Linked DNA regions of Homo sapiens: region 1 is reported to be linked to region 2. Evidence: microRNA targets listed by miRTarBase, many of them from high-throughput screens and not tested one by one. Region 2 holds a microRNA gene; the other region holds the end of a gene's coding sequence.

The links. Region 2 holds the annotated microRNA hsa-miR-449b-3p (CAGCCACAACUACCCUGCCACU, at 1,755-1,776, shown strand). A microRNA usually pairs through its seed, bases 2 to 8, with sites in the 3' UTR of a target mRNA and lowers its output. Matches are read on the target gene's strand: a 7mer-m8 pairs with bases 2 to 8, a 7mer-A1 pairs with bases 2 to 7 and ends in A, and an 8mer does both.
Region 1: miRTarBase lists SMG8 as a target of hsa-miR-449b-3p. Seed matches in the 3' UTR shown: 7mer-m8 at 477-483.

The regions. Positions count from the first base shown.
Region 1 is chr17:59,214,581-59,218,107 of GRCh38, forward strand. It overlaps SMG8 (SMG8 nonsense mediated mRNA decay factor), which reads left to right. Exons shown (of 4, transcript NM_018149.7): 4 at 225-650. The coding sequence ends at 422. Among named protein-coding and RNA genes, the nearest start is that of GDPD1, 4.2 kb to the right of the region's middle.
Region 2 is chr5:55,169,443-55,172,442 of GRCh38, reverse strand. It overlaps MIR449B (microRNA 449b), which reads left to right and starts at 1,701; the gene lies at 1,701-1,797. All of the region lies in intron 2 of CDC20B (cell division cycle 20B), which reads left to right. MIR449A (microRNA 449a) reads left to right here and starts at 1,821; the gene lies at 1,821-1,911. It overlaps MIR449C (microRNA 449c), which reads left to right and starts at 90; the gene lies at 90-181.

The sequences.
Region 1 (3,527 bases), not on the chromosome of region 2:
GTATTTTTAGTAGACATGGGGTTTCTCCATGTTGGCCAGGCTGGTCTCGAACTCCTGACCTCGTGATTCACCTGCCTCAGCCTCCCAAAGTGCTGGAATTACAGGCGTGAGCCACCAGGTCTGGCCTTGTATGTTCTTTGAACCTATCGTCTGTTTAGGCATTTATCTTTCAGTTGTTTCATATTGAGAAATGTGAAAATAATTATACTACCTGTGTTTTTCAGGTTCAGCCAGGCCCACCACCATGTCCGGTATTCTACCCAGAAAAACAAGAAATCACCCTTCCACCTGATGGCCTTTGGGTTTTGAGATTTCCTTATGCATATGTGACTGAGAGAGGACCTTGTTTCCCCCCTAAGGAAAATGTGCAGTTAATGAGCTACAAGGTGCTCCGTGGGGTTCTTAAGGCAGTAACACAATAAGTGTTTTCCAGCCAGTTCAATCCTATACTTGAGCTGGTTTTTGTTTTTGGTATTTGTGGCTGTGTTTTTGGTATGTGTTTACTGTGTTTTCCCAAATCCAAAATGTGTTTTGGTTACAGGAGTTCAGTATTTGGAAACTAATTTGTTCTACTTTTTCATTATATTGTTGATATTTATTGTAAACGTGACTACAACTTTCTAATAAAGATTGGTTGTTCTAGAAAAGAATATAAAATACATGGATGATACCTGTTTTTTCTCGTTTCTGTTTTACTCTCCATAATTAAACATGTTTCTATTATAACTGAATGTTGCATAACCATGTTGAGCCAAAATTTTGTTTTTGTTAAAATAATGTTTTAGCTGGTTTTTTTTTTTTTTTTTTTTTTTTTTTTTTTTTTTTTGAGACAGAGTTTCACTCTTGTTGCCCAGGCTGCAGTGGAATGGTGCAATCACGGCTCACCGTGGACTTCGCCTCCCAGGTTCAAGCCATTCTCCTGCCTCAGCCTCCCAAATAGCTGGGATTATAGGCATGCGCCTCCACGCCTGGCTAATTTTGTACTTTTAGTAGAGACGGTTTCTCCACCTTGGCCAGGCTGGTCTCGAACTCCTGACCTCAGGAGGTGATCCGCCCACCTTGTCCTCCCAAAGTGCTGGGATTACAGGCATGAACTACCAAGCCCAGCCTAGCTGGGATTTTTTTTAAGATACTAGTCTTGAAATTATCTTCTAAACAAGTTGATACATTAGGTTATCTGGTAATAATATGAAGATACTTGATTTAATTCCAAAAAAAGCACAATTGGTTGACTCACAATTCTGGTACTTTAGTTAAACGGTTTTGTTCTTATCTTGGCCTGATGAGATACCATAATTTAAACGAATATTATCTAAACTAAACTTTTTAATCCAGTATATTAATGCGAACTATTCTTTTTTTTTTTTTTTTGAGACGGAGTCTCACTCTGTCACCCAGGCTGGAGTGCAGTGGCGGGATCTTGGCTCATTGCAGCCTCCGCCTCCTGGGTTCAAGTGATTCTCCTGCCTCAGCCTCCTGAGTAGCCGGGATTATGGGCACGTGCCATGACGCCTAGCTAATTTTTGTATTTTTAGTAGAGGTGGGATTTTGCCAAGTTGCCCAGGCTGGTCTTGAACTCCTGACCTCAGGTGATCCACCTGCCTTGGCCTCCCAAAGTCTTGGGATTACAGGCGTGAGCCACCTTGCCTGGTCAATGCAGACTATTCTTTAAAAATTCCTGTACTGTGAAACAATTTGCTAAGTGATCCAAATCTTATCAATCAGGCTGGGCACAATGGCTCATGCCTTTAATTGCAGCACTTTAGGAGGTTTAGGTGGCAGGAGGATCCCTTAAGACCAGCCTGGAAGACATAGTGAGACCTTGTCTCTACAAAGAAAAAAAAAAAAGATAAAGATGTGGTGGTGCATGCCTGTAGTCCCAGCTACTCAGGAGGCTGAGGTGGGAGGATGGCTTGACCCCAGTGGGTCTAGGCTGCAGTGAGCTGTGATCATACCACCCCAACAGAGCAAGACCCTGTCTAAAAAAAAAAAGATCTTGGGCCAGGTGCAGTGGCCCATGCCTGTAATCCCAGCACTTTGGGAGGCCGAGGCAGGTGGATCATGAGGTCAAGGGATCGAGACCATCCTGGCCAACATGGTGAAACCGCATCTCTACTAAAAATACAAAACCTAGCTGGGTGTAGTGGCACACCCCTGTAGTCCCAGCTACTCGGGAGGCTGAGGCAGGAGAATCACTTGAATCCGGGAGGCGGAAGTTGCAGTGAGCCAAGATTGCGCCACTGCATTCCAGCCTGGTGACAGAGTGAGGCTTCGTCTCAAAAAAAAAAAAAAAAAAAAAAAAAAATTCTTACCAATCTATGGTAACTTTCACCAGCATCCACATGACAATATGCCACTATATCACCATCTAATTTTTATCACCATCTAGTTGTTATCACCAATCAGATGGCAATATAGTGGTATATTGTGATATATCACCAATTAGGTAAGTACAAATTAAGTTAACATACCTAAACTCTTGTGTAATTGATTACATTTCCATAGACACACTAATTTTGAAACGTTGGACAAATAGAATTGTAGATTTTAGTCTCAATATATAGGAAATATGTATTTAACACATCTTGCTACATTTAAAGCCATTGTTTTTTAATTTAAAAATATACATAGGCTGGGTGCGGTGGCTTACACCTGTAATCCTAGCACTTTGGGAGGCCGAGGCAGGAGATCGAGACCAGCCTGACCAACATAGTGAAACCCCGTCTCTACTAAAAATACAAAAATTAGCCAGGCCTGGTGGCGTGCTCCTGTGATCCCAGCTACTTGGGAGGCTGAGGCAGGAGAATCACTTGGACCCAGGAGGCAGAGGTTGCAGTGAGCCAAGATTGCGCCACTGCACTCCAGCCTGGGTAACAGAGTGAGACTCCATCTCAAAAAAAAAAAAAAAAAGTAAATGCTCCTCTTTCTTCTCTCGCCTTCATTAAAAGAAAATTATATAAAATAATAAAAGAATTCAGAACTCTGACTTTGAATTCATACTTTTCCTGTTGTTCTGTCTTCTTAGAAAATATAAGAATGAACCTGTAATCCCAGGACTTTGGGAGGCCAAGGTGGGCAGATCACTTGAGGTCAGGAGTTCAAGACCAGTCTGGCCAACATGGTGAAACCCCATCTCTACTAAAAGTACAAAATTAGCCGGGCCCAGTGACTCATGCCTGTAATCCCAGCACTTTGGGAGGCCGAGGCAGGTGGATCATCTGAGGTCGGGAGTTCGAGACCAGCCTGACCAACATGGCGAAACCCTGTCTCTACTATTAGCCGGGCCAGGTGATGCATGCCTGTAATCCCAGCTACTCGGGAGGCTGAGGCAGAAGAATCGCTGGAACCCGGGAGGCAGAGGTTGTGGTGAGCTGAAATCGTGCCATTGCACTCCAGCCTAGACAACAAGAGCGAAACTCCTTTTCAAAAAGAAAAGAAAAGAAAAGAAAAATATACACACACACAATATTAGCCAGGCGCGGTGGTGCGCATCTGTAGCCCCAGCTACTCAGGAGGCTGAGGCAGGA
Region 2 (3,000 bases):
TTTATGAAACTGAAGATCCCAGACAAATAATGCAATCGTTTGCATCTGAATCGTACTTTCTAGTTTCTGCCTCCACAGCAAAGGATAAAGCTGGGATGTGTCAGGTAGGCAGTGTATTGCTAGCGGCTGTTAATGATTTTAACAGTTGCTAGTTGCACTCCTCTCTGTTGCATTCAGAAGCACGCCCCCCAAAGAAATGGAAATGGTGCCATCTTGTGGACAATGTGGAGAAGTGGCATAAACCATGGTTCTTAACGTGAGCAATTTAAAGTTGATCCAATGTAGTACCTGTTCTCCTTGAAAGACCAAACCCAAAGGTCTTTAGTGTCTCCTGTAATCAGTGTAAAAGGAAACAAATTTAAATGGTTTTATAAACGTGTTTCATAAAGAGCCTTCATCTGCTTTAAATCTCTGTCACCATTTACCATGCTTCTCTCTAGGCTCAATAGTTCATCTTCCTTTGACCTGTACGCAGAGATTCTAGTTCCAAATCCACCACCATTTTAATAGATTTTTCTAGATCTTATATAAATTTTGCAACTAGGCACTGTGGCTCATGCCTGTAATCCCGGCACTTTGGGATGCTGAGGCAGGAGGATCACTTGAGGCCAAGACTTCAAGACCAGCCTGGACAACACAGGGAGACCTTGTCTTTATAAAAAAACTGCAAAAATTAGCTGGGCATGATGACATGTGCCTGTAGTCCCAGCTACTTGGGAGCCTGAGGCAGGAGGATTGCTTGAGCCCAGGCGTTCAAGGCTGCAGTGAGCTATGATTGCACAACTGCACTCCAGCCTGGAGGACAGAGCCAGACCCTGCCTCTTAAAAAAAAAAATTCAGTATTCAAGTGGTAACATCCTATATTGAATACATAATTGCATTTTCAGAACTCGATTACTAATGTCATTTCTAGTAGGAGAAAACTAATTGCATTTAAGCCCTTACATTTCTTAAATACTTTAATGTTGATTTTTTCCCCCAAACACTGCTGCAGTTTTGTGTCGTGCACAGCTTATGTATTATCACGACTCCTAGATATTTTACTGTCTAATACAGACAAGTAGTCTTTGGATCAGTAAACAGAAGTGATTTGAAAAGCTATAGTTAAGTAACTTTTTATTTATTTTTTTGAGACAGAGTCTCACTTTGTTGCCCAGGTTGGAGTGCAGTGGTGCAATCTCGGCTCACTGCAAACTCCAGCTCCCGGGTTCAAGTGATTCTCATGTCTCAGCCTCCTGAGTAGCTGGGATTACAGGCAGCACCACCACGCTGGGCTAATTTTTGTATTTTTAATAGAGACGGGGTTTCACCATGTTGGCCAGGCTGGTCTTGAACTTGTGACCTTAGGGGATCAGCCAACCTTGGCCTCCCAAAGTGCTGGCATTACAGGCATAAGCCACTGCGCCCAGCCTACAGTTAAGTAACTTTTAAAATTCATTTGTACTGTAGAACATATTTTTATCCAAGCATTTAATTTGGAAAACCTAAATGTAAGTATTCTGAAAGTTTTAAAGTTTTTGTTTAACTTTTATGTTTTTGACTAGATTCAAGCAAATATTGATTTTATTTCTTATAGTCTTGAAGTAATACATTTTGTGTATAAGTTTTCTTTAATGTGACTATTAAGATTAGAGTTCTGCCACTATGTTTCATGTTACAAATTTAGCCTCAGTGACTGCCTGGGCCACGAGAATCGGCAGTGACCTGAATCAGGTAGGCAGTGTATTGTTAGCTGGCTGCTTGGGTCAAGTCAGCAGCCACAACTACCCTGCCACTTGCTTCTGGATAAATTCTTCTTGTCAATGAAGTGCTCTGGATACCTGTGTGTGATGAGCTGGCAGTGTATTGTTAGCTGGTTGAATATGTGAATGGCATCGGCTAACATGCAACTGCTGTCTTATTGCATATACAATGAACATCAGAGTGTAACTGAATCTGTAATTAGTGTGTGTTTATGTGTACTTTCTGCTATGAAGCAAGCCACTATTTACCATAATATATTATTGCCATTAGCTTATAATACAGTAATACTTACAATGCACAGTTTTATAATGGTAAGGAAAGTATTACAATTACTTAAATTTTTTCCTTTTAAGAAAAATTTACTTATGCCTGCTTTTCCATAACTAAAAATTTTTAAGAAATATTTTTGGAGTCTTTGGAGTCTTTCGGAGTAGACAGTGTTTAAGTATTTATGAAATTACATGTTTTTAACTATAAGGTTTAGAATGTAATAACAATGTGGAATGGACCTACAATGTGTCCCCAGATTTTCAGTGAAGTCTTTAGGATTCTTTCTGCATTATTAGTTTCTTTCTTTTTTTTTTTTGAGACGGAGTCTCGCTTTGTCGCCCAGGCTGGAGTACAGTGGCGCGATCTCGGCTCACTGCAAGCTCCGCCTCCCGGGTTCACGCCATTCTCCTGCCTCAGCCTCTGGAGTAGCTGGGACTACAGGCGCCTGCTACCATGCCCGGCTAATTTTTTTGTATTTTTAGTAGAGACGGGGTTTCACCGTGTTAGCTGGGATGGTCTCGATCTCCTGACCTCGTGATCCACCCGCCTCGGCCTCCCAAAGTGCTGGGATTACAGGCGTGAGCCACTGCGCCCGGCCTCTGCATCATTAGTTTCTAAATACAGCATTAGAATTGGTTTCTATAGCCATGACTGTGTGTGTACCAACTGAAGGGAAAGTTGAGGTAATTTTCCAGATGAGTCAGTCAACTAAAACATTTTTCACTTGAAATATCAAGAATATTGGGGATTTTTTTTGGGTGGGGGATGGTTTACATTTTTTTGGAAGATCTACCTCAATCCTTTCACTTCATTTTCTGTAAAATCACAGGTTCATGAAATATTTGGAAGACAGCATGAGATCTAACAACTTGTGAAGTGGGAAGAACTGACCATACAATATGACCTTAAATATATTCTCATTACCTTGGAGGCATTTTGACCCACGAAGTAGCATAGATATGTGCTGGCTTCCAGACATGCAGTATT